Linked DNA regions of Homo sapiens. The protein of the gene in region 1 interacts with the protein of each later gene in a pairwise test. Each region holds a gene or a part of one and is shown in the gene's direction. Other genes may lie near its edges. The genes, in order: PIAS2, ZC3H10, ZBED1 and ATF2.

Region 1 (7,030 bases):
ATTTCTAATTAGGGAAGATTAATGCTATAAATTTTCCTTTAAATACTACTTCAGTGTTTAAATAATACAGTCCACAAATTTTATTACATTTTTATTTTCATTCAGTTTAAAATCTTATTTTTATCTTTGACTCATGTTTCTTTTGTTTAGTTTCCAAGTTTTCAGGTTTTTCTGGTACGGACTTAATTTGAACTTAATTCAAATACACTTATTTTAAATTTATTGAGACTTCTTTTATTTCCCTTTTCTTCCCTCCTTCCCCTACCCCATTATCCTTTTTTCTCGAAGTTAAAGTTTATAAATTATTTTACTATATAGTAACCTTTATCTGCTGATGTTTGTTTTTTGTGCTGTGTTAGAGGTTGTTCTTACTGCCAGCCTCAGCTAGGAGGCTCCAGGTATCTACTTCTCTCTAGCCATTTATACTCATTGAGTTACACAGGTGATGCTCAGTAAGTTACTTAACTATTATGTTGCCTGTTACAGATTTAAAACATAGGACAAAGGGAGTGTAATAATTGTTGTAAAGTATAAAGTATTGCAATACCAAAAGAAAAGGGGGTCAGCTAACATTACTTATGTTTTCAAGGTAATGTGTATTACTTTCTTATTTCACCTTTAGGCAAAGCTGTTGATCACATGTATGTACTTCTTAATTGTTTTTTAGGCTTTTTATGGAAATTCTCAATGACTGTTCTGATGTAGATGAGATCAAATTCCAAGAAGATGGTTCTTGGTGTCCAATGAGACCGAAGAAAGAAGCTATGAAAGTATCCAGCCAACCGTGTACAAAAATAGAAAGTATGTGTAGAATAGCAGCAGAGAGTAAAGCAGTGAGACTCGTGCAACATTATCATTAATCTTGGCCCCTAGAACTATACGTTTGGAATTCAGCTTGTTGACTCAGTCTTTTGATGATATATAGTTTTCCCCCAAATGATTTTTATTCTTTCCTGAAGGAATGTGCTAAAGTTTATACCATCTTATCAGCTATTTCATAGTATATTTTTCCTGTGTAGAATAAAGGAAACATTCATCTAAAATCATTTTAAAATATGATGTTTGTTACAAAACAAAAAGTCACAAATGAATTTATATGGACAGTTTTTCAGAATTGTTCTTAGAGTATCTGTAGGTGGAACCCTAGGTGGAGGTGAGGTTAGAGAGGCTGCATCATTGGTTAATGGCCTTGGTGGTTTGGGGATGGTCACAGGTTAGTTGCTCAGAAAGTAAACAAATTGTTACCTTCCATTTCTTTGTGGAGAAGAATTTTAACATTGCCTTGATTACCTAGAATGTATACTCATCCATCAACTGCCTGCATCCATCCACACTAAGTAGGGAAACTGAGGGCATTTGGAGTAATTGAAACGCACAGGTGAACTTAGAGTTTCTTTTTATCTAACAGTCTCATTGAAACCCACACGTGAACTTAGAGTTTCTTTTTATCTAACAGTCTACTCACTGCATTTCAGTTTTGTTCTGATTACATTTGAAGTTCTAACAAACAATGTAATGAATGGAGTAAGAAGAAAGGGGAAAAAATAAAGGATTTATGCCATTATTAATTATTCCTCTGCGATTGACACTAAACCTGAGTGCAGTGACCAAGGTTTCTCTCATCTTTCAGAAAAATGGGGAGTGATTTAGTTGATAAGTTTCTGTTGCTTTTCCATTATCAACTGTCATTCATTTTTAACTAAATACATTACAGATAATAACATACTTTTCTGTGAAAATGTGAGTTAACAAATATGGTATGTGAGACTGTCTTTGTGGGTAGAAAGAACCTACGTGATTAGCAGATAATTCATAAGAAAAGTTTAAATGTCTTAGTAACTTAATTGAGAGGTTTGGGTTTTTTTCAACTTATCAAGATGAAAGTTTTTATCAAGTTCTGGCTTATGGTGAAAAGTCTGTACTTTCTTTGATATAAGCATAATTGCTAGAATGGAAATATCTGGTTCTGAGCTAACTGTGCCACATGTGTGCGAGAATACATAGCTGTTGAACTCACCCATTCTTGTCCCATGACCTGAGACCAGTTCCCTAACTCTGCGTGTCTTTCTGTAAAACGACTGCTGACCTGCAGAGACAGGATGAGCAGTAGGAGCTGCACAAATCCTTCAGTGGTATTGGAGGCATAACTAAGAACATTCTGTCTGAATGAGACTTCTAACCATCTGTCAAGGAATAGTGCTCACCTGTCTCCCTAGGTGAACAACCATTTTACAGACAGAGGTCTGGAGTTAGGGAGTTGGTATTTGTCCATGGGTTGGAGTATGTGGCTTCACTGGCTATATGTTGTCAGGAACATACTATACTGAATATACTAGACTCTACCACTAGAGTTTATTTGTGTTATACCTTTAATTTTTTTTTCCTTTTGTTTCTTTACATGCAGGTTCAAGCGTCCTCAGTAAGCCTTGTTCAGTGACTGTAGCCAGTGAGGCAAGCAAGAAGAAAGTAGATGTTATTGATCTTACAATAGAAAGCTCTTCTGACGAAGAGGAAGACCCTCCTGCCAAAAGGAAATGCATCTTTATGTCAGAAACACAAAGCAGCCCAACCAAAGGGTTTGTTAATTTATAGTTCACTATTGTTCATTACCCTTGCAACTAATTGCTCTTGGATAGATTTATAAATGTCTCTTTGGGAAATGGCATAACTGTAGAAGGCTATTTTAATTTGCCTTTGTTGAGTTGAAATATTTTCGAGTAAGCACATTGTTTATAGGAAGCAAATTTTGATGGAGAAAATATTTACATCTTTGGAAAGTGAGCGTGTGAGGTATTTATTTCCTACCTGAGACTTTTTGTTATTTTCTTGAACCTGTTTGTAAGGAAATTTGGCATCTCAGACCAGATGAGAAAGTCTGGTGTAATGGAGTGTGGAACTGGGAATCTGACAAGTATGGATTCCAATTTTGGCACACCATCGCTTACTTGTTCTGTGATCTTAGATGAAATACTTAATTTGATTGAGCCTCTTTTTTGTGTTCTGTTAAATGGAGCTAAATAACGCCTATATTACAGGATCATTTTCAGGTTTTAATGAGATGAAAGAAAGCCTCGGTGTCAGGCATGTGGTAATTTCCCAATAAAAATTGATTCCTTTCCCTTTTCACCCTCTCCAGGGCAAAATATAGGTGGGTAGGATGGCATTCTACCTGAATTTTAGCGTGGATTCTCTGTAAGTTATCTGGCAGAAGGCATTACTGACCTGCATTAAAAATCAGGTTTGGGTATTTAACAATAGTTGCTTTTTCAGAGAGGTTTTGAACCATAAAAGGAGATAACAGGAGAGTTCTCCTGGCTGTCTACGAACACATTCTTTCAAACTTGGGTTTGCTAGTGTCATCTTTTTGGCCTCTTGGTCCACTTGGTTTTCTAATGGCTTTACTGAGTTATAATTTACATAGCATAAAATGTACCCATCTTAAGTATATAATGGCACAATTCAGTGATTTTAGTAAATACATAGAGCTGTGCAATCATCACCATGATTCAGTAGTAGAATATTTTCAACACCCAAAAAACTTTCTTCATGTTCTTTTGTAGTTTATTCCTATTTACACCCCAAATCTAGGCAATCGTTTTTTTGTGTCTATAATGCCTGTTTAGACATTTTATATAAAATGTCTTGTTTTGCAACATTGTTTATTTTTATAATTTTAAGAATTAAACCTTTTCAGCTGCCTTCTTTGCTGTTAAAATACTTACATTTCCAAATATAATTTACACATATATTAAAGGCATATATTTACTTCTACCCATTTAATTAGAATGAGGTGGGGTTTTTGTGTGTGTGGAACAAAATGAGGAAGTATTTCAAGTGGATTTTTTCCTGGTGTGCCAATCATTTATTGCTCCTTTGAGACAAATTGGTTGGTACATCTGTAATTTAAATGATAAACAGAAAATGAAGTTATAATTTTGAAATGGTTACGTTCAAAATGTATTTTGAAGGGGAATGAATGCTTAGATGTGATGTTTCTGGATTTTACTCTGTAATGATACGCTTTAGAATATAGTGGAAAAACATGAGTTGCAAGTACTGCAGTTGGCTGAATTCATGCCAGGTTGAGAGGTCATGCCTAGTGATGCTGACTCATGAGTTGTTGTGATCTTGGAGCATGTCTCTGGTGGCATGCCACAAGGGTCTACCCTCTGTCCTTTACTACATTTTTATCTGTGTTTGATAAGTCCATGAAACAGGAGGGATGGCACATACACAGTGGGCGACAAAATCTGAAATGACCTCAGTATGCAGAGGAATAAGGATAGTTTACATCTGTGATCAGCTACTATAGAGATAAATGTTAAGGTTCCTCATTTAGGCTGAAAAGAAAACAAAAACTAACATTGGTAAGTATAAGATAGAAATTTGTGACTAAACCAGCAACACATGAAAGTTTATTTTAAAAGTCTGTATAAAGCGCAGCTACCTAGTTCGTTCCATGAAGCTGATGTAGCCCTTAACACCCAACCTAGACATACATACACATTAATACACGGAAGAACTCTTAAGAAACAGACTCACATAGAAAGATAAATGAAAATTCTGAATTCAGTCTTAGGAAATCATTTAATTATATATTAAAATGACATCTGTGACCAACTAGAGTTTATCCCAGGAGTGCTTTAATATTAGGAAATACATTGATAAGATGGATCTCGTCATAAGGACAACTTTGTAGTCATCTTCATGGATGTTGGAAAGGCCTTCAGTAAATTAATTGCCATTTCTGATAGAAACTCTTTCAAATGTCAGGTTTCAGTTAATGGTTTGAAGAGTTCACCACTGAAATCAGTTTGTTCTTAGCATTAATAAAATAAGCATAGTGTCCAGGATCCATACCATGCCAGTTTTGTTCCATTTTAGGCTATATGACTCTCAGAGCATTTCAGTCAGTGCTGATCATCAAGAATGGTATTAACAAATGAGTATGGCCAGAGCAGGGGAACGGGAAGGTGAATAGTGGAATCTGGAGCAAGATGGATGAGTGGATCTTAAGGACTGAAGCTGTTAAACCAGGAGAAGAGATTATTTGATACCCACCTTGTAGTTCTTAAAAGGGAGACAATGACTAGCTGGATTAAGTTTGTTCTTTATTACCAGATTTAGGTCCAGTGGACTAAAGATACATGGATAAACTTTCTATTGGAGCTTTCTGAATACTAGGAAATTTAATCTTTTGTCCCAAAATCATATTTTCTGTGTTAGAGTGGCTGCCACCTGTCACAGTGTCATAGTGGAGGCTCATGCTATAGTTATATCATCTCTGTGATCCCCTCCTACTCTTAGACTTTTGTGACTTTGTTCTTGGTTGTCCTTTTCATATCCTTTCTTGTAGTTCAGCATCTAGAGTTTTTATGGTTTTCCTGTGCTGTGTAAGTTTATCATAGGATTTCTTGGCCATCAAAGATAGTAAGCAAATGAGAAAGAACAGAGAATGAGAAATCAGGAAAACTTACTCTAATTTACAGCCCCGAAATTATGTGAGCAACTATTTTTTTTTTTTTTTAATTTTTTGAGACAGGGTCTCAGTTTGTGACCCAGGCTAGAATGCCGTGGTGTGATCGCGGCTCACTGCAGTCTTGACCTCCTGGGTTGAAGCGATCCTCCTGCCTCAGCCCTCCAAGTAGCTGGAACTACCACCCCCAGCTAATTTTTTTGTGTTTTTTTTTTTTTTGTAAACATGGGGTTTTACCATGTTGCACAGGCTGGTCTCGAACTCCTGAGCTCAAGCCATCCACCTGTCTTGGCCTGCCAAAGTGCTAGGATTACAAAATGCATAAGCCACCACGCCTGGCCTGTGAGCAACTATCTTTTAAGAGGTATTATTATTTTAGTAAAAATTATTCTTATAAACAATTTTACAAAGCACCAAGAAGAAAGCAAAAAATATCTCACCTAGAGAGAATCATTGCCATTTTGATGGCAGTCCTATTCCCTTTCTTTGCTTACGAACCGGAGTCTTTAAATGCAGTCTTATAATACCTGTCAGAAGAAACTTGTATGTTAATCTTAAGACATTTAGAAAACCTCTGATGTTTTTCCATATTAAAAGATAATTTTACATATTGTGCCCCTTCTGAAAAATGAGTGGTTGCTTTGCCTTAATAAGAAGGTATTCTAAAGACAGGAAACATAATAAGGATAAATCTATATGTCTCCAGATTGATAATCATTAAGAATTGGTAGCAAAATTGCATCTTTTTTATACTTTTATGATCATAAAGTGGGAGCATACAGTGAACTTCAGGGTTATAAATAGAAATGGTCAACCTATTTTCAGACATCCAAGTCTGAGCAAATGTGAGTTTCATGCAATTCTCTGATCCAGCATATAATCCGGAATACTAATATTTGCTATATAGCAGCATTCTAGCAATTCACTTTTGTGCTGTGATATTATGGATAAAGTTACAAACGTTTAAAATATAAATGGTCACTTGCATAATGTATACACGTATCTGTGTGTGTTTACCAATCCTATGAAGAGGCAGTAACAAGTTTTAAAAGCTTTAAATCTTTTTATTAACATATAGCATCACATTTTTACATCCATCATTTCACCATCCATAGCCATTTACATTTTTTCATGGAATCTGTTACTCATATCTATTTTTTGCATAGGCTTTAGAATCATTTTGTTTCTGAATGTGGTCTTTGTGAAGATTTTGATAACAAAAGCCTGCTCCCAGTATGTAATTTGATAATCCTAACTAATGACTACTTTAAGCCATTCTATGTAAAGTTGAATTTGTATTAATGGTTGCAACATTCAGGTAATGGGAATTAACCAACACTAAGTAGTTTAGCTTTTCATATGTTTGCTGAGGTTTTAGATGTTGATTTACTAATTTGTACCGCCATTGGATTTTCACATTTCACATGTTTTGACAGTCAACCTTTTGGTGTTGCCTAAGTAAGGAGTAGCTATTTACTCATTTAAAGTTTCATGTTACTAAGTGACAGGACACGTACAGTTATTAGGTGTTACTGTAGTGACAGACAGGTGTGT
Region 2 (7,850 bases), on another chromosome or scaffold:
GCTGTCCAGTCAGGCCCCTCCCATTTTAGGAGCTGGAGCCTTCATTTATGAAGAGATTCTCATCTATGAAATGGATCCTCATTTGTAAATCTTTTTTCTTCCATTTTCACAAAGCTGTAAAGAAATAATCCATCTCAACCTTACCCTTTTTCTCTGGAGTCAGTGGGGTCTTTCCTCGCTCCATCTTACACAGACCTGAGCTGGAAGCTCAACTGGTTTTGTTCCCTGTTTGAAATATTGTGATCTCCCTCCCATGAAAGAAAAACCAAGAACCAGAGGCGTAGACTGACTGAAGACACAACTCCTGGCTTTCTGAAGCTATGGACTTGGATTGGATTGCTGGGGGTTTGTAGAGAAAGGTGACAAATTTCAGTACCTCTGGCATGCTGTCCCAGGAAACTAGGGCTCCCACTAACTTATGAGGTTTTTAAACACATTGAAAATGACATGACATTAAAATAAATTTGGATTTGCTCATAATGATGTGCTTTGTATGCTGCTCTTGTTTGATGGAGGTGGGGAGAATGTCAGTTGAAGTGGTATTGGAACTGTTCCTCCACAGTGCCATGCTCTACCTTCCCAAAACGAGGAATGTCTTGACTTGCAGAAGACACAAATCTTAGAATCTTTGATGATATAGTAATCTGCTGGAGTTGGGTGGTGTAATTTTCTAAGTAGAAACAGTCCTCACTGCTAAGATTTGTTTGGGGCTAGGACACAATGTCTACTGCAAAAACAGTACTGCAAGTGTTTATCTTGAATTCAAGAAGCCAGGAAGAATGGTACACTAGTTTTCAGGGCCAGACTAAGGTCAGATGGGTAATTAGTTTATCTTACTACATGTCAGGAATTGCTAAACTAGAGATACTACAAGTGAACAGAACTGAACACAGGTCAAATGTGTAATGATGTATATCTACCATTAAAATAGAGTAGTTTTAGTGCCCTAAAAATCCTCTGTGTTTTGCCTGTTCATCTCTCTCTCCTTGCTTACGCATTTGTCCAAAGGCAAAGAATGTACAATGCCAATGCCAAGAGTGAACCCTAGTGTAAACTAAACTATGGATTTGGGGTGATAATGGTATATCAACGTAGGTTCTATTGTTAACAAATGTACCACTCTGGCAGGGTGGAGTGATGTTTATAAAGGGGGAGGCTATATGTGTGGGAAATGTCTATACCTTTCTCAATTTTGCTGTGAACCTAAAACTGTTCTAAAAAATTAAGTCTATTAAAAAAAGAAAAAAACAGCCAAGTGCGGTGGCTTATACCTGTAATTCCAGCACTTTGGGAGGCCGACGCAGGCAGATCACCTGAGGTCAGGAGATCAAGACCAGCCTGGCCAACATGGTGAAACCCCATCTCTACTAAAAATATAAAAAGCCAGGCTTAGTGGCGGGCGCCTGTAATCCCAGCTACTTGGGAGGCTGAGGCAGGAGAATCGCTTGAACCCAGGAGGCGGAGGTTGCAGTGAGCCAAGATCGCGCCACTGCACTCCAGCCTGGGTGACAGGAGTGAGATTCCATTCCGTATCAAAAACAAGCAAACAAAATTTCCCTCAAAGAGCTTATAAACTAGTTGGCAATCATCAGTTGAAATCTTGGTGGAACTGATACAAAATAATTCTGCTAGGATTTTTTTTGTTTCAAAAAAATTGTCATATATATTTGGGTGGTGACAATACTACAACTACTTAGAAGGAACCTAATTTTAAAAACGTTTTTCAGGGATTGAAAGTGAAATGCTATCCTGGAATATAATAAAGGGAAACCACAAAAAAAGAGGGATTGTAACAATCACATACAAAATGTTACAGTATTTTAAAACTGTAAGATGAAGTCTCTATAGGGAAAGGGTTCTTTTTCATCCCCCATTAACTCAAAAGTTTCCTGTAGCCAAATCTTAGGGGATCTGGTTGTTTTCCAGTGCTTCTCACCTGAGCATACAATCAAACTGGGAAGTTCTTTATCTTAACACCAAATGTCATACTTTCCCTAGATTTAGGTAATTTTCTCCCTATGTCCGTTGGTTCGCTCTTCACCCCTAGAGAATCACTGCATAGGTCACTGCAGCCTCGACTTCCTGGGCTCGAGATTCCCCCACCTCAGCCTCCCAAAGCGCTGGGATTACAGGCATGAGCCACCGTGCCCAGCCCGCTGACGTATTTTCTGAACAAATGATGCATTGTAGCCAGGAATCTCTAGTGATATTTTGCTTCGGGCATCGTGGGGGAAGACCATAATCAGCTATTTTATTCTTGAAATTTAGGAAAAATAATTGCTCTATCTTAAACAGTGAGAAAATATTTTTTGAAGTATGGCAGCTTTCCCGAATCCCCACTTTATATCTTCCTATGTTCTGAAATCTTAGGACCTTCGATGGTTCCGGAATCGAATCACCCTGCAGCAATTTATTTTAGAAAATAAGGCAAACCGGCTGGGCGCGGTGGTTCATGCTTGTAATCCCAGCACTTTGAGAGGCCGAGGCGGGCGGATCGCTTGAGCTCAGGAGTTCGAGACCAGCCTGGGCAACACAGCGAAACCTCGTCTCTACTAAAAATACAAAAATTAGCCAAGTGGCGCGCGCCTGTTGTCCCAGCTGCTCGGGAAGCTGAGGCGGGAGAATCGCTTGTATTCAGGAGGCGGAAATTGCGGTGAGCCGAGATCGCGTCACTGCACTCCAGCCTGGGTGACACAGTGAGATCCTGTCTCAAAAAAGAAAAAAAGAAAGAAAGAAAGAAAAGAAAGAAAGAAAGAAAGAAAGAAAGAAAGAAAGAAAGAAAGAAAGAAAGAAAGAAAGAAAAGAAGGCAAACCAGTAAAACAAGAATTTCTGTACAGTCCGCGCCTATCCATAGCAAAATGGAGGACTTCTCCAGGGAACTGCAACTCCCAAGAAGCAATGCGAGGGAAGGTGGCGGTCACTATTTTTTCCCCGTCTGCACCTCTAGGTCCAATATTGGAAATAGGTGCTGACGTTTAAATAACACAGCGTCCTCATACTAAATCTGGGGGGGAACTGGTAACTCGAAAACCAAATACTCGGTCTTCCGAAAGAACTAACTCAACCTACCCTTCTACAAGAGGGTCCGAAAACCACTGTTACGCCCATTGGGTAGCCCCGCCCTTGGGGGGGGCAAAGGGCGTGAAAGCGGAAGTGACGACACCCGGCGCTCCATTAAATAGCCGTAGACGGAACTTCGCCTTTCTCTCGGCCTTAGCGCCATTTTTTTGGGTGAGTGTTTTTTGGTTCCTGCGTTGGGATTCCGTGTACAATCCATAGACATCTGACCTCGGCACTTAGCATCATCACAGCAAACTAACTGTAGCCTTTCTCTCTTTCCCTGTAGAAACCTCTGCGCCATGAGAGCCAAGGTGAGCGGTTCCTGGTAGTAAGCTTGGGAGGTAGGAGTTGGCGAGTAGTAGCGAGGAGACGAAGGCAAGTCCGCCATACCTCCTGAACTACTGGGTTTCAAGGGTGCCCAAGAGCTGGTGGGAGAGAGAAGGTAGTTTGTGAGAGAGCTAGCGGTTAAGTGCTATGGGTAGAGAGGGTGGGCTTAGAAAAGGGTGGAATTCTGATCTTATGTTGGGAGGGTGTCCAAGTTACTGATGTAGTTGTTACGACCAATCTTTCATACTTCTTGGTTAAGAATCTGTCCGGTTCTAAAGAGTGCATTTCATATCCTTGCTAAGCCTACTAATAAGCTTCATCCCTTTTTTTTTTTTTTTTTTTTAATTATCTGCTGCTTGTGATCGGTTGCTAGTGGAGGAAGAAGCGAATGCGCAGGTACGTTGAGACTTTGCCAGCCCAGGAGGAGGGAAGTTCCTTGGACAAAACTTAGGAGAAACATTTGGTTTGGAAATCTTAAAAGATCTTTAGGAGAAAAACGTTTGAGTGTTTTCTCCCTGGAGCCAGGATTTAACAGAACAGAGAACGATAGAACCGTAGTGCTTGTTCATTTTACCACCTCATTCTTTATGTGGACGTTTGATTTAATGTGGGAGGGAAAGGCAACTCTGGTTTGAGGTGTATTCCATTCCTGTGTCTGCTTTTCAGGCTGAAGCGCAAAAGAAGAAAGATGAGGCAGAGGTCCAAGTAAACCGCTAGCTTGTTGCACCGTGGAGGCCACAGGAGCAGAAACATGGAATGCCAGACGCTGGGGATGCTGGTACAAGTTGTGGGACTGCATGCTACTGTCTAGAGCTTGTCTCAATGGATCTAGAACTTCATCGCCCTCTGATCGCCGATCACCTCTGAGACCCACCTTGCTCATAAACAAAATGCCCATGTTGGTCCTCTGCCCTGGACCTGTGACATTCTGGACTATTTCTGTGTTTATTTGTGGCCGAGTGTAACAACCATATAATAAATCACCTCTTCCGCTGTTTTAGCTGAAGAATTAAATCATCTTGTCTATTATGTTTTTTATGGTTCCATCGGGTGGGGGTTTTCTGTCATTAGAGTTTGCCCTGTCACTACCTGTGCTATGGAGGGTATCAAAGCTATAAAGGCAACAGCCCGGGTTACGTGGTGTGGTTTGCATCTCGCTGGAGTTGGATGGGATATGGTACGTCTCTGGAGGCAGGTTTTAGGTTTCGCGGGTTATTAGGGGCCAATGCTGGTACCGCCCCTTTCCAGGAGGGCTGCCTTGGCGACTACCGCTTAGACCATGTCGTGCCTTTGGGTTGGGTTGCCATAGTGACACGCAAAGCGTGCTGGGAACGCCCTGCGGCATGTCGCACGCGTACTTCATACACCATAGAGTATGGTTCCGGGTCTGCTGGCTAGAGCGTCACTTCTTCCGCAGGAAGCGGAAGAGCGATCGGGTAGGCGGCTCTTTGTCGAAGCTAGAGGACCGGCAGGCGGCAGCAGCAACTACGGCGGCGGCGGCAGGTGAGGGAGGCGGGAGACTTAGGTGGAGGCCGCGCCCGGAGGGGAGGAGTCGGGGCCGGCCCAGCGGCTGGGCTCGGCCAGGCCACAGAAGGCCCCCCAGAACCGAGCTGGCTCGTCCTCACACCCCAGGGCAGTGCCCCTTTTCTGAGTGACCCCGCATCGCGAGCAAACGCCAGCTTCGTGACGTCACAACCCTGCCCATCCCCTCAGCTTGATGACACCTGGAGCTCCAGCTCCCCGCTTCACTTCGCGCGCCCTTAGTGTCCCATTCACGTAGCCCACGGCTGAGCGCCGGCGGCACTGCACGGAACCTGCCAAGCTAGAAGACTTGCTGCGGGAAAACTCCTAGGACTTCTTTCGCAAACTCTAGGGTGTTGGGAAGCGTCACAATCACTGCCTTCAAGTCTAATCGGCCATCCCAATGCACTGTCAGACGCTGCCTTTTTGAGGTTCCTCACTAGCCATTACTAACTCCAGCCCTTGGCGGTGCTCTGACCCTCACATCCTCTTTCATCTTGAGGCAGGGCGCCCCGCACTCTTTGTTCACTCAGGGCTGGTTTTCCAACCCCTCCTCCCAGTCCCTCCGAATTAGTTTTACTCTTCTTACTGGCAACTTCTCCCTTGGACAGGTGAAGTTCAGTTTGAACCCTGAGGAAATCCTCACGTTCTCGAAGCTTTGCCGTTTTGTCAGATTTCTTGTGACAACCACCCCATAGTCCTCCACTCTTACTCCTTCTTCCACCCAAGTCTCTGTTTTTTTCCTGCTCAGAACCCAGCAGTGATGTGGAGGTGGAGACCCACAGGAGCCCCGGACTTCACCTGAGCTACCTCAGGTATCAATTCTGGGAGAGTGGGGTGGGGAGGAGCATCATAACTAATTATCTGCTGCTGGTGCGACTTGCAACGTGAGCCAGGCTTGGATAGATGGCATTTGTACTTCACCTGGTCATTCCCCTTTACTAAAAGTTTGTATCTTCTTTTACCACTTCTTTCCTTGATTGCTTCTATTATTCTGGGACTACCTCTCTTTAGAGGAGGAGGACCCTCTTACAGATTCTCTTGTAACTCTGGCCTCTGGTTTGGTTAGTTCATTTTAGGGAGATCTGAAGGCAAAGTCACAGTAGTGGGGTGGGGGTAGGTCAAGGCCAAAGGAATTAGGAAAGATTCCCTTATTCTCAAAGGGAACAATATGAAGTTTTCCTATTTCAGCAGCAGGGGGAGCCTGAACACCGCATAGGAAAGGCTTGGGAGGTCAGACACGTGGTAGCAGGGACTCCAGGTCTTACTGGGGGTGGAGAGAGGGGAGGGCTAGAACCAGGGCAGTGGACTGACATTCCAAAGCTCTCTTGGGAAATAGGAGACTTAAAAAGCTTTTATGGAGTCTATAAATAAAGAGGATCTTTCTGGGTTGAGGAATGGTGTGGTTGGATGTCAGTGGGATCTTCACATAGGGGAGTAGGAAGGGGGTGGGGAATGGGGAAAGGTCACTTGTTCCTGTGAAATTAACTCCTTCCCACTTGACCTTATCACAAATGGTTTGTCCTAGGAAATCTAGAAGTGGAGACTCTAACTTAGAACTCCTATCCTGAAATAGAAGGGGCTTACCTCTCTGCCGTTGACAGTGATGATGGCTGGGAGGGAATACTAAAATATGACAGGTTTTGAGACTCCCCTCAAGCTGGTGACACCAGTCTCTTCACCCAGGATTTCTTGGCTTCTAGAGATTTGATGTGTACAGAGCCCTTACCTGAGGAAAAGGAAAGGGGGTTAAGGAAGTTTTGTTACCAGTGTCCCATCTTCTACAGCCCTAGTAGCTCAGTAGCCCATCTTGGGCACTATTCCCAGTTTCCTTCCAGACTATTCAGATACTGACTGCAGTTTTAATTTCACTTCCACAACTTTAATAAGGTCAGCTCAAAAGGAAAGATGAATTCCAACACTATTTTTTCCCTGCTCCGTCCTGGGCCTATCCCTCCTCCGTTAGCCAGGCAAGTGTGAATCATTCTGACCCAGACCAGGTGCACAAAACCCTGGGAGGGGCTTTTGATGAGTCAGACATTTCAGCCAGAATTCTTATCCCTTAGATTCTCCATCTCTAAAGCCATTGCCCCTCTGGGCCACCTGCTTTATAGTCAGGAAGAGTGGGATCTCCCTGGAGGACTCCTGTTTGATACAGTTCTCCTCTTTTGTAGTGGTCACCAAGAGTGGCAAGATAAAGAAAACCCTGAGTTGGGCGGGACCAGGATGCCTGACCGGGACAGCTATGCCAACGGTACCGGGAGCAGCGGTGGAGGCCCTGGAGGTGGTGGCAGCGAGGAGGCCAGTGGGGCAGGGGTAGGCAGTGGCGGGGCCAGCTCAGATGCCATCTGTAGAGACTTCTTGAGGAATGTGTGCAAGCGAGGCAAGCGTTGCCGATATCGCCACCCAGACATGAGCGAGGTGTCCAACTTGGGGGTGAGCAAAAACGAGTTCATCTTCTGCCATGACTTCCAGAACAAGGAGTGTAGCCGCCCAAATTGCCGTTTCATCCATGGCTCCAAGGAGGATGAGGATGGCTATAAGAAGACAGGAGAGCTTCCCCCACGGCTGAGGCAGAAAGTAGCAGCTGGCCTTGGCCTTTCACCGGCTGACCTACCAAATGGCAAGGAGGAGGTCCCTATCTGCCGTGACTTTCTCAAGGGTGACTGTCAGAGAGGAGCCAAGTGCAAGTTCCGTCACCTGCAACGGGATTTTGAGTTTGATGCTCGGGGTGGAGGAGGCACTGGTGGGGGCTCAACAGGCTCAGTCCTCCCAGGACGACGTCATGATCTCTATGATATCTATGACCTTCCTGACAGGGGCTTTGAGGACCATGAGCCAGGCCCAAAACGCCGGCGAGGTGGATGCTGCCCCCCTGATGGCCCTCATTTTGAGTCATATGAATATAGTTTGGCTCCACCGCGAGGGGTGGAGTGCAGAC
Region 3 (5,072 bases), on another chromosome or scaffold:
TGACACGTGCGGCATCGCTGCAGTCGGATTAACGTGGAAGAAAGAGCGTATTCCTGCGCTAGGTTCCCTCCTCCACTCTGCAAAAGTGACCCGCAAGGAAGGTCCAGCCGTCCGGCCCCAGTGCCCTTTGGTTGAAAGCGGAGCTGCCCCGGCACCCTGTCTGTCTCCCCGGCAGGGCTCCCGTGCGTGCCTGGGTCCCTTCTCATGCTGTGTTTGTCTTGGCCCTTCTCAGCAGGTCCCCACGCATGAGCAGCCGTCCAGCAGGCAGGCTCCGGTGGAGAAGCAATGGAGAATAAAAGCCTGGAGAGCTCCCAGACAGACCTGAAGCTGGTGGCCCACCCCCGCGCCAAGAGCAAGGTGTGGAAGTATTTCGGCTTCGACACCAACGCCGAGGGATGCATCCTGCAGTGGAAGAAAATCTACTGCCGCATCTGCATGGCCCAGATCGCCTACTCCGGAAACACCTCCAACCTGTCCTACCACCTGGAGAAGAACCACCCCGAGGAATTCTGCGAGTTCGTCAAGAGCAACACGGAGCAGATGCGTGAAGCCTTCGCCACCGCCTTCTCCAAGCTGAAGCCCGAGTCGTCCCAGCAGCCCGGGCAGGACGCGCTGGCCGTCAAGGCCGGCCACGGCTACGACAGCAAGAAGCAGCAGGAGCTGACGGCCGCCGTGCTGGGCCTCATCTGCGAGGGGCTGTACCCAGCCTCCATCGTGGACGAGCCCACCTTCAAGGTGCTGCTGAAGACGGCCGACCCCCGGTATGAGCTGCCCAGCCGGAAGTACATCTCTACCAAGGCCATCCCTGAGAAGTACGGGGCCGTCCGGGAGGTGATCCTGAAGGAGCTGGCCGAGGCCACCTGGTGTGGCATCTCCACCGACATGTGGAGGAGTGAGAATCAGAACCGCGCCTACGTCACGCTGGCCGCCCACTTCCTGGGCCTGGGCGCCCCCAACTGCCTGTCCATGGGCTCCCGCTGCCTGAAGACCTTCGAGGTGCCCGAAGAGAACACGGCGGAGACCATCACGCGAGTGCTCTATGAGGTCTTCATCGAGTGGGGCATCAGCGCCAAGGTCTTCGGGGCCACCACCAACTATGGCAAGGACATCGTGAAGGCGTGCTCCCTGCTGGACGTCGCAGTGCACATGCCCTGCCTGGGCCACACCTTCAATGCCGGCATCCAGCAGGCCTTCCAGCTCCCGAAGCTGGGGGCGCTGCTGTCGCGCTGCCGCAAACTGGTGGAGTACTTCCAGCAGTCTGCCGTGGCCATGTACATGCTCTATGAGAAGCAGAAGCAGCAGAACGTGGCCCACTGCATGCTGGTGAGCAACCGCGTCTCCTGGTGGGGGAGCACGCTGGCCATGCTGCAGCGCCTCAAGGAGCAGCAGTTCGTCATCGCCGGGGTCTTGGTGGAGGACAGCAACAACCACCACCTCATGCTGGAGGCCAGCGAGTGGGCCACCATCGAGGGGCTGGTGGAGCTCCTGCAGCCCTTCAAGCAGGTGGCCGAGATGCTGTCGGCCTCCAGGTACCCCACCATCAGCATGGTGAAGCCGCTGCTGCACATGCTCCTGAACACCACGCTCAACATCAAGGAGACCGACTCCAAGGAGCTCAGCATGGCCAAGGAGGTCATCGCCAAGGAGCTTTCCAAGACCTACCAGGAGACGCCCGAGATCGACATGTTTCTCAACGTGGCCACCTTCCTGGACCCCCGCTACAAGAGGCTGCCCTTCCTCTCCGCCTTCGAGCGGCAGCAGGTGGAGAATCGCGTGGTGGAAGAGGCCAAGGGCCTGCTGGACAAGGTCAAAGACGGCGGCTACCGGCCGGCTGAGGACAAGATCTTCCCGGTGCCCGAGGAGCCTCCCGTCAAGAAGCTCATGCGGACATCCACGCCGCCGCCCGCCAGCGTCATCAACAACATGCTGGCCGAGATCTTCTGCCAGACAGGCGGCGTGGAGGACCAGGAAGAGTGGCATGCCCAGGTGGTGGAGGAGCTGAGCAACTTCAAGTCCCAGAAGGTGCTTGGCCTCAACGAAGACCCCCTCAAGTGGTGGTCAGACCGCCTGGCCCTCTTCCCCCTGCTGCCCAAGGTGCTGCAGAAGTACTGGTGCGTGACGGCCACGCGCGTCGCCCCTGAGCGTCTCTTCGGATCCGCCGCCAACGTGGTCAGCGCCAAGAGGAACCGGCTGGCTCCCGCGCACGTGGACGAGCAGGTGTTTCTGTATGAGAACGCCCGGAGTGGGGCAGAGGCGGAACCCGAGGACCAGGACGAGGGGGAGTGGGGCCTGGACCAGGAGCAGGTGTTCTCCTTGGGGGATGGCGTCAGCGGCGGTTTCTTTGGCATTAGGGACAGCAGCTTCCTGTAGCGAGGAAGCGTGTTGTCTTACAAGTCATCCCCGCAGCAGCCCATTGGATGCTTTGCTGTAAATACTTACCCGGTCAGCTTGGTTTTGAACCTCAGAGACCATCCACTGTCTTTGACACCTAGAAGGTGGAAAAAGGAAAGAGATTTGAGAAGTGAGAGAGGGTCGGGGGCGGTGGCTCCTGTCTATAATCGCAGCACTTTGGGAGGCCGAGGTGGGCAGATCAGCTGAGGTCAGGAGATCGAGACCAGCCTGGCCAACATGGCGAAACCCCGTCTCTACTAAAAATACAAAAATTAGCCAGGACTGATGGCATGTGCCTGTAATCCCAGCTTCTGGAGGCTGAGGCCAGAGAATCGCTTGAACCTGGGAGGTGGAGGTTGCAGTAAGCTGAGATCGCTGCACTCCAGCCTGGGCGACAAGAGCGAGACTCTCTCAAAAAGAAAAAAGAAGACACAAGAGAGGTGGCTTTGAGTGGGTTTCCTTTCCTCCCCTATTCCCGGGGCCCGGACGACTTCTGCTTGGGAACTGCCAACGCTTCTGCTTGGGAATTGCGTGCAGCAGAGCCTAGAGGAGCTGTTCCTTCCTTCACAGATACTTAAGACCTCCACCATGTCTGATTCGAGTTCTCCCTGGGAGGGTTTAGAAGAAACGCAGGAACATTCTGGGTGGCGTCGAAGGAGCCTTTCCCGATCATCATGTGTGACTTCTGCGAGGTCCAGATCACTGAATTCATGTTTACATTCTCGTGCAAGCAGGGACCTCTTGCTTCTGAGAAATGGGGAAGAGACCTTTTAGCCAAAATGCCCTTCTTAAAAAGAGAGACCTTTTTTTTTAATGTTCGGTTAAAAATGTGACAGATGAGTACAAAAATGCAGACACTTAACAAAAAGCAAACAGAAAAAAAAGTGTGGAATGTGTTGTATTTTCGACAGGTTGCTGCCAGAGAGCCTGCTTCCTGCTGCCTGCCGAAATTTCACTTTGCGGAGTTGGTCCTTAAAACTGGGCGGTGGCCGGGCGTGGTGGCTCACGCTGAGGTCAGGAGTTCGAGACCAGCCTGGCCAACCAACATGGTGAAACCTCGTGTCTACTAAAAATACAAGAAACTAGCCAGATGCGGTGGCACCCGCCTGTAATCCCAGCTACTCGGGAGGCTGAGGCGGAAGATTCGCTTGAGCCCAGGAGGTGGAGGTTGCAGTGAGCCAAGACTACGCCACTGCACTCCAGCCTGGAGGCCAGAGTGAGACTCCGTCTCAAAACAAAACAAAAGTGGGTGGCTCACGGGTCCGGAGGTTATGTCTTCGGTGTCTCAGCCCTAAAAGTCCAGTTCCCCCGTGCGGCCAGCTTTTCCACATAAGGTGTTTTTGATTTGATTACCGGAAAGGACTCTTGATTCTTCTCTTTTAAACTGAATACCATAGGGGAAATGAATTTTAAAATATTGCCCCCGGAGGGGTTTTCCGTGGCTGGATTCCTGCGAGTTGCTTTCAGTCATTCAGGGAAACAGAAAGACGTTTTCCAACATGTAGAACTGCTTTTTAACTGGAGGAAAAATACTTCAGGAGGCTTAGCATATTGCTTGGATTCTACGTGCAGCGGGTTCTCTGCCTCCGTGAAGACAAGCTGGGCTGGGGAGAACGGTGTCTAGGAGGGATGACCCCACTCAGCTCCAGGCAGTGTTCTGCCGAGACCCCAAGAACTCGGGGTGTCAGAGGGCAAAGGAACTACCTGCCTTTCACGGCTGCTGACTTCTCAGGGCTGCAAGCAGCACAGAATGTTATCCTTACGTCCTGAGCCGGTTTAAGTCTGTGGAAAAGGAAGCACGGGAGAAATCCACGTAACCTTTGCTTTCTTTTTAAGGGAAGCGGTTCCGCCGTGAACTTGGAACCCTCAGCTCCGGGTGTTCTCGGCAGAAGGGCAGCTGGAAGGGACACAGTGGGGCAGGCTTTGGGGTTGCTCCCTGTTCTGCCCCGAGGCCGGGGACGCAGGGCAGCCCACGCCTCCGTGGGCTCCATTCTGTAGCATTGCCAGCGTTCTCTTCACGTCTCTAACAATCCTTCGCTTTTCCTCACTCACGTGGAAATGTGAACTGTCCCGGCTCTGTCTTCATTTTTATTTTTAAGCCATCGTTCCCCTCCTGAACGGTTGCCCCTTATTTAATGCTGTAAAGTTGGACTGTTGTTCAATAAACCAGAGCAATGCATTAGCTCCTCATTCATTTGTCTGCCGCGTGTCCGTCTGGACTGCAGTTTGTCTGAACCCCTTGATCCTGGGAGTGGAGGGAGGTTTATCATTATTATTATTTTTATTTTTGTTGTGGTCCTTGTTGAAAGCAACTTTTTCCAGGGCACCCACGGTCAGTTCTGTGCTCCTCTTTCTTGTCTGTAAATCCTCAAGTTATGATGTACTTTCGGGTGTTTTGGCATCAAAATTTCTGAGTGAATAAAGCCGGCAGCTGGTGAAAGTGTTCCCCGGGAGCAGAGATTTTTGCCGGTTCCTTCACTTAGTGGATAGTTGTATAAACGGAGGCCCCATGGACGAGGCAGCCTGGATGGATCCGGATGGCATCAGCGCCTTCCCTCTCCCCCCAGCCTCCTTATCACCCCTCTCTTCCTGTCTTCCTCACCTCCTCTCACATGGTCTCTTCCTTCCCTCCTCCTTCCGTCCAACCCTCCCTCTCTTCTTCAGCCAACAAATCCTTCCTT
Region 4 (7,030 bases), on another chromosome or scaffold:
CCTTCTAACTTGTCTTCCTGCTTCTACCTCCAATCCATTTTCTGTAAGATGACTTTTAATACATTAAATATGTCACCTGCTTAAAATCTTTCAATGGTCTACCATTGTATTTAAAATAATTCACACTCCTTGGCATAAGCCCTCTTTGATCTGGGCCTGTCTACGCATCTATCCTTACCTCATGCCTCTCTATTGTGTTCATCAAATATTCAAAGCTTTTTCCTACCTCAGGACATGACATATATGGTATTGCTTCCTTCTCCCTACAATGAAATGCTCTCCTCCTCATCCTTTTATCATCAGTTCGAATGCTGTTTTTGCAAAGAAGCTCACCTATTCTTACTATGCTGTCTAAATTAACTGACTCTTCCTTACCTTCAGCTAATCTTTCATCCTTTGTTACATTGCACGTATTATTCTGTAACACTTAACATTTACTACAATCTGAAATTTTCTTACTTGTTTTACTTGTTTATTGTCTCTTCCTTGAGAGCTAGTCCTTGGGAGCATAAGTTCTCAACTTACTGAATAAATGAAGTTACAATACTACTACTTTATCCTTCTTCCTATGTAGCTTAATAAGATTTTGATGATAAGTGGCAGCATACAGGCCAATTCATAAAACACCATAGACCCAATTTTTACACTGACTATTTAAGGAGTTCTGGGTAAAATCTTTTAAAACTTTTTGTTCTATAATTTGTAAAACCAGAGGAAATACCATCTTTAAGGTCTTGGCTGACAAATTCTGTTTTCCTGACTTGAAAGAGTTCACTCCGGTAATTATTTATTTTACATTCAAGATATCAGTATTACGTGGCCTTTTGATATGAAGAAATTATTGATATAGAAGAGGTAGCTAACTGGAATTAACAATTATTTGTATTGCTCTAAAAGTTCTTATTTCTGTTACTTAATTGTATCAGCCATAACACAGTCTCACTGGACCTGTTTCCTCTTCATACAGTATAATGAGGGAGGGGGACTAAACAGTCCCTTCTGGATTTTAAGTTCTGTGATTCTCTGAGAATGGATTATATTTTTATTTTTTATTAAAATTCTCTTGGTATCATAGCCAAGTTGCCCAGTCTAACTTATTTCTGGATTGATAGGAGAACAAGTTGTACTGGAAAAAAAAAAAACGAGTCTTTTTAAAATTAAAATATTAATTGAACATTGCATTTGAATCTTTACAGCTCTTCTAAAATGTTCTTTTAATTAATTTGAGATATTAATTTGCTTTTAGCAGTTATTATTCTGTAGATGCTTTTAGAAGTGTGTTACATTCTGTTCACTAAGGTACATGATTTGTATTTTTAAATGCCACCCTTTTTTATCTCATTGTTAAATAGGAAGTACCATTGGCACAAACTGCACAGCCCACATCAGCTATTGTTCGTCCAGCATCATTACAGGTTCCCAATGTGCTGCTTACAAGTTCTGACTCAAGTGTAATTATTCAGCAGGCAGTACCTTCACCAACCTCAAGTACTGTAATCACCCAGGCACCATCCTCTAACAGGCCAATTGTGTAAGTGATTCAGGCCAATCATTGAACATATACATGAATTAAGTTTGTTTTGTAATGATTTTTCCTAAGACATTTGATTATTCAAACTAAGATCTTAGTTTTGTATGTGTGTGCATGCTTCGAATTTTGGAAAAAGTACTTGCGTAGTCTTCTTTAATATAAATATTAACTAACAGAGTGGGAGATAAATACAACTAAAAACAAATATAGAATGTGAATTTAAGATAGTCTTATTTTCATGCTATTTCACACAAAATATAAAATTACTGCATCACCAGATTCCATTTCTTTCAGTTCTTACTGGTAGCTCCCAAGAGCTCTCTGATGACAGTTTTTCTCATTTTACAAATTGGAGATTGTCCTAAGTAAATCCATAACTTTTCTCTTCTTTTCAATACTGCTACACAGGTTATGCATTTAAGATGCAATTAAAAATAATTAAATTTTGCTATTTGCTTTGCTGTGGTTAGAAAATGTATTTTTAAATGATATGATTATAGGAGTAAAAATACTATTGTATTTTTAAGAGACAGTTGGTATGAATCTCTTTTTTAAAATTTCTCTTCTTTTGTTTTTCTTAGCCCTGTACCAGGCCCATTTCCTCTTCTGTTACATCTTCCTAATGGACAAACCATGCCTGTTGCTATTCCTGCATCAATTACAAGTTCTAATGTGCATGTTCCAGCTGCAGTCCCAGTAAGAAAGTTAGACTATTTAAATCTCTATCGCAAAACTGATCTTTGTAGTCAGAAAATAAAGTTGGCTGCTTGACTGGCTTATGAAATTGAATTTAACATAATATTGATTAGCAGTTGATAGTATTTATTTGTTATCATTGTAATAGCATATACCATTCAAGGTATAGCTATTTTTTCTCTTCTCCCCAAAACCTTAATTTTTTTTTTATACTGAGATCTTCTTATTCAACCCATATCAATTTGACTGGACTTGTAGCATTCAAATATTAACACAGATTTCAAATTTTAGAAAGATATTTGTACTAGAATACTTGTCAGGTAACTCTGTGGTATTTCTATTAGTATGGAAATTGTTTATAAAGACACACTCTGAATTTTTGTGGTCAAGTAGGGTTTGTAGAATCTTTGATAGCCCAGCATGTTAAAATGTAAATGTTCTAGAAAAATAATCTTTCACTTTCCCTGTGAAAAGACCCCGCAAAAAAGTTTTTTGAGGGGTGTGTTAAATATATAAATTTTGAAAGACGTAGACAAAATAGTTAACTATCTACTTATGATATTTAATAGTTTGGCCAGGCATGGCAACTCATGCCTGTTGTAATCCCAGCGTATTGGGCGGCTGAGGTAGGAGGATTGTGTGAGCCCAGGCGTTTGAGACTGCAGTGAGCTATGGATCCTGCCTGGATGACAGGGCAAGACCCCAAGTCAAAAAAAAAAAAAAAGTAATAGTTTAATGAACATTTAAAAACACATTGTTTGGAATAATGTGTGTTAGAAAATTGCTTTTTTCTTACTTACATTACATAAAACAGTTTTATTCAAACAAACTCTTCAGTTATGTCTTTGACATTCAAATTTTCATCCTGAGAACCACTTTTTGAGACATCTAGCACAGTTTCCAGAACACAGTATTTTCTTTTTCATCTAAATCATTTACGATATTACTTTATGAATCTCTCTATTATTCTCTCCCTGGAAATCTTACACCAAGCATTAGGTACTTATTTATGTAATAAAAAGATAGTTTTTTCTTTTACCTTCTAAGATGCTTGTTACTGATCAGTACAGTGTAATCATTTACAGTGTAGCTTTTAAAAATTATTTTTAGGCCAAGTGCAGTGGCTCATGCCTGTAATCCCAGCACTTTGGGAGACCAGGGTGGGTGGCTTGCCTAAGTCCAGGAGTTCAAGACCAGGCTGGGCAACATGGCAAAACCCCATCTCTACAAAAAATAAACACAAATTAGCCAGTTGTGATGGAAGCACCTGTAGTCTCAGCTACTCAGAAGGCTGAGGTGGGAGGATCACTTGAGCCTGGAGGTTGAGACTGTAGTTAGCCGAGATTGCACCACTGCATTCCAGGCTGGGCAACAAAGTAAGACCTTGTCTCAAAAATAATAAAAAATAAAACTTATTTTTAAAAGCTTACTTATAGTAACATTCCAACACTTTCGGTGAGATTACCCCCAAGAATATTACTAGGATTAATGTTTGATATTTATATCTTTTTTTAATTAACTAATTCTTCCACGTGATCTTTCAAACTATCCAAAATTAGCATTGATTGACGTAATTTCAAGATAATGTGCCTTCTTTAAAAAGAACTTTGTTCAAAATGCATTATTTGAGAGACTTTGTAAGGACTCAGATATAAGGTATCTGCTTCCTCTTTACTGAGAATATTTTTTTGAGGAGGGAAACATTCTTGCCTTGTTTTTGAGATTCTGATTATCCTGTTACATGTACCTAGTGATGAAAGCAACCGGAAATGAAAGAAAAGATATGCTTTATTTATACAGTAACTGTGTTCACTCAGTGTTAGGTTTAAGAAAAAAAAGGAAAAAACCAAAATGGTAAAACCTGTTACAGATTATTTCAGAAATTATTACAGTGTGTTATTTGTTATTATGTGGTATGTATAAGAAAATTCATTGTATATATTTTTAGAAAAGCAAAATTCATTGTTGAAATTATTTTTTATGCCTAAGTGTCACAAGTTTTGACATTCTTCCTTTCATATTCAAAATGGAAGTTTGACAGATCTTTGAGAATTTTTGCATTAATCACTTTGAATATTATGAATTTCTAACAGGGACCATTAAGAAAGAAATTGTAGAAACTGAAAATTAGGAAAGCACACGTCTCAGAAATTGACAACTTTTGAAGGATAAGTCAGGATATAAGACCAAATAAGGATTTGGTATAGAGATAAAATCAGCTGGTGATAAATTTACAATGTTCTGATTCTTAAAGTCTCAAATTATTACAACAGCAGTAAAGTACAAATCTCATTTTGAATATATTCTCTAGCAATTATTTTTCCTTATGTCATGCATAGCTCGTTCGACCAGTCACCATGGTGCCTAGTGTTCCAGGAATCCCAGGTCCTTCCTCTCCCCAACCAGTACAGTCAGAAGCAAAAATGGTAAGCCAGATTTTATTTGTTCTGTACATTGCTTGAGGCTGTTTTGAATTAATGTTTTCACTAAAGCCTGCTTCAAATGCACAATTTAGATCACATTTTTATAAAGTTACGGACTGTTTTATACTATAGATAAACCACAAAATTTGAAAAAAGAAATCTTCCTTTAGCATAGTGAGTAGTTAGTGATACTTTAAAATTAGTGGCAGATTAGAAGTTCTGTTTCTTGTCACTTGTTGTTTGTCTGGCTTTTTCTTGTGGCTTTTTCTCCTCCTAGTGGAAAATAGGAGTATTACATCTGAAACTAGATGTGATCATCTGAAGGCAGTGCTGCTAATAATGATGAGTGGTTTTAACAGTATTAAAAAGAATTCTGAAATAGTGTACAAGTTAGCAAACATGATAAAACCATTTTTTTCTGTTGTGCTGTTTGGATGCTATTAAATTAATGTTTAGATGTGTATTTTAATTTTAATTTTAATCCTAACTCCACTATTCACTACCTTTAATTAAGCAACTGTAACTTTCCTGAGATTGCATTTCCTCATCTGTAAAATAAAAAGATTAAGCTTTGGTTTCTGGGGTACTTCTTAACCCTAAATCCTATAAACGTTCTAATTTTCTTAGTAGAAGATCTGACGATTCTATTTTTAAAGAAAATCAGGGCCGGGCGCAGTGGCTCACACCTGTAATCCCAAGCACTTTGGGAGGCTGAGGTGAGCAGATCACCTAAGGTCAGGAGTTCGAGAGCAACCTGGCCAACATGGTGAAACCCCATCTCTACTAAAAATACAAAAATTAGCCGAGCGTGGTGGTGCATGCCTGTAATCCTAGCTACTCGGGTGGCTGAGGCACAAGAATTTGCTTGAACCCGGGAGGCCGAGGTTGCAGTGAGCCAGCATCGCACTATTGCACTCCAGCCTGGGTGACAGAGTGAAACTCCATCTCAAAAATAAAATAAAATAAAATAAAAATCAGTGTAATTCTCCTTGCTGTGTTATAATACAATAATGTCAGTTAATTAATAACATCGATTAATTGGGTAGATGTTAACGTTCTATATCATAATAGGGCTAACAACAGCAATTAATTAATGTATCCTTAGGAAATCAATAGATTAGTAGTTATTAGACACCTTCTATTTGCTTCAGTTATTTGCTAGGCACTATACTAAATACAAATTTTTACATGCTAAAACATATTGCAGAGCTGAATTTATTTATTTATTTATTTTTTGAGATGGAGTCTCGCTCTCTCACCCAGGCTGGAGTACAGTGGCACAATCTCAGCTCACTGCAACCTCCGCCTCCTGGGTTCAAGCAATTCTCCTGCCTCAGCCTCCTGAGTAGCTGGGATTACAGGTGTGCACCACCATGCCTGGCTAATTTTTGTATTTTTAGTAGAGACGGGTTTTCACCATGTTGGTCAGACTGGTCTCGAACTCCTGACCTCGTGATCCCCCCTCCCCAGCCTCCCAAAGTGTTGGGATTACAGGCGTGAGCCACCACACCCGGCCTGAAAAATTTTTACTGCTATTCTCCATTAGTGCAGACAATCAGTCAGAAATTTGCACAGGACACCCTGTTTTAGCAATAAAACTTACATATTATCTGAATGAACAGCAGTTGGTTGAAGAGTATAAAAATTAGGTGGTTATTGATTGTTAGAGAAGACCCTAAAAACCCAAGGAGGAAATTTTTCACATCATAGTATGTTCAGGTCAGAGCTTTGGAAATACTAAGATGAATCTTCTTCACTTGATAGCAGAAGAGCTTCACCAGGGGCATTTTTTGCACTTCCTATTTTAGTATACTGATTGATGAAAAATTCAATTTAATTTACCATGCAGTGGGAACTGAATAGAGCAGATATAGATATTAAAAGGAGATCCTGTTATTGTGTACTGCATCTAAAAGTATTTTTACATATTCATTGGACTTTTTTCTATAAATTAATTCAAAAGGAACAAATCCAGTTTTAAGAAATACCTTTATTTACAAGAGTAGGCCATATTTTTAGAAACTGTTAAACTTTACACTTAACCTGAATAACTGTTTCTTTTAGGTCATCAGGAAATTAAATTAAAAAGAATAAAAGTTTCTCTCTTTCCGATCAGTCCACTCCATCTATTCTGATGTTTGTAACCATAGATTAGTTATAGAATTTCATATAAATAGCCACTTTATACTCTTATGTCCAGCTCAGCATGTCTCAGATTTATCCATGTTGTTGAGTGATCACAGTTTGCTTCTTTTTATTGCTGAGTGGTATTCCATTGTGTGAATATACCACAATTTCTTTGTCCATTCTCCTGCTCATGGACACTTTAATGGTTTCTAGTGTTTAGCTATTGTGAATAAAGCTACCATACACAGTCTTT

What was found.
Region 2: the proteins of PIAS2 (region 1) and ZC3H10 interact in binary tests that used the Homo sapiens proteins (3 or more experiments, as listed by UniProt).
Region 3: the proteins of PIAS2 (region 1) and ZBED1 interact in binary tests that used the Homo sapiens proteins (3 or more experiments, as listed by UniProt).
Region 4: the proteins of PIAS2 (region 1) and ATF2 interact in binary tests that used the Homo sapiens proteins (3 or more experiments, as listed by UniProt).

What each region holds. Positions count from the first base shown.
Region 1 is NC_000018.10:46,823,505-46,830,534, reverse strand, and holds part of PIAS2 (E3 SUMO-protein ligase PIAS2), read left to right. Parts: intron 1-667; coding exon 668-801; intron 802-2,404; coding exon 2,405-2,576; coding exon of another isoform or gene 2,577-2,592; exon of another isoform or gene 2,593-7,030. UniProt on the Homo sapiens protein: Functions as an E3-type small ubiquitin-like modifier (SUMO) ligase, stabilizing the interaction between UBE2I and the substrate, and as a SUMO-tethering factor.
Region 2 is NC_000012.12:56,113,428-56,121,277, forward strand, and holds the start of ZC3H10 (zinc finger CCCH domain-containing protein 10), read left to right. Parts: upstream 1-4,838; 5' UTR 4,839-4,891; intron 4,892-4,989; exon of another isoform or gene 4,990-5,340; intron 5,341-5,520; exon of another isoform or gene 5,521-5,660; 5' UTR 5,661-5,724; intron 5,725-7,083; 5' UTR 7,084-7,135; coding exon 7,136-7,850. Other genes in the region: RPL41 (small ribosomal subunit protein eS32), read left to right, coding at 3,361-3,372, 3,762-3,784, 4,055-4,097. UniProt on the Homo sapiens protein: Specific regulator of miRNA biogenesis. Binds, via the C3H1-type zinc finger domains, to the binding motif 5'-GCAGCGC-3' on microRNA pri-MIR143 and negatively regulates the processing to mature microRNA.
Region 3 is NC_000023.11:2,485,933-2,491,004, reverse strand, and holds the end of ZBED1 (E3 SUMO-protein ligase ZBED1), read left to right. Parts: intron 1-232; 5' UTR 233-285; coding exon 286-2,370; 3' UTR 2,371-4,570; downstream 4,571-5,072.
Region 4 is NC_000002.12:175,109,191-175,116,220, reverse strand, and holds part of ATF2 (cyclic AMP-dependent transcription factor ATF-2), read left to right. Parts: intron 1-1,352; coding exon 1,353-1,531; coding exon of another isoform or gene 1,532-1,535; exon of another isoform or gene 1,536-1,978; intron 1,979-2,112; coding exon 2,113-2,227; intron 2,228-4,566; coding exon 4,567-4,653; intron 4,654-7,030. UniProt on the Homo sapiens protein: Transcriptional activator which regulates the transcription of various genes, including those involved in anti-apoptosis, cell growth, and DNA damage response.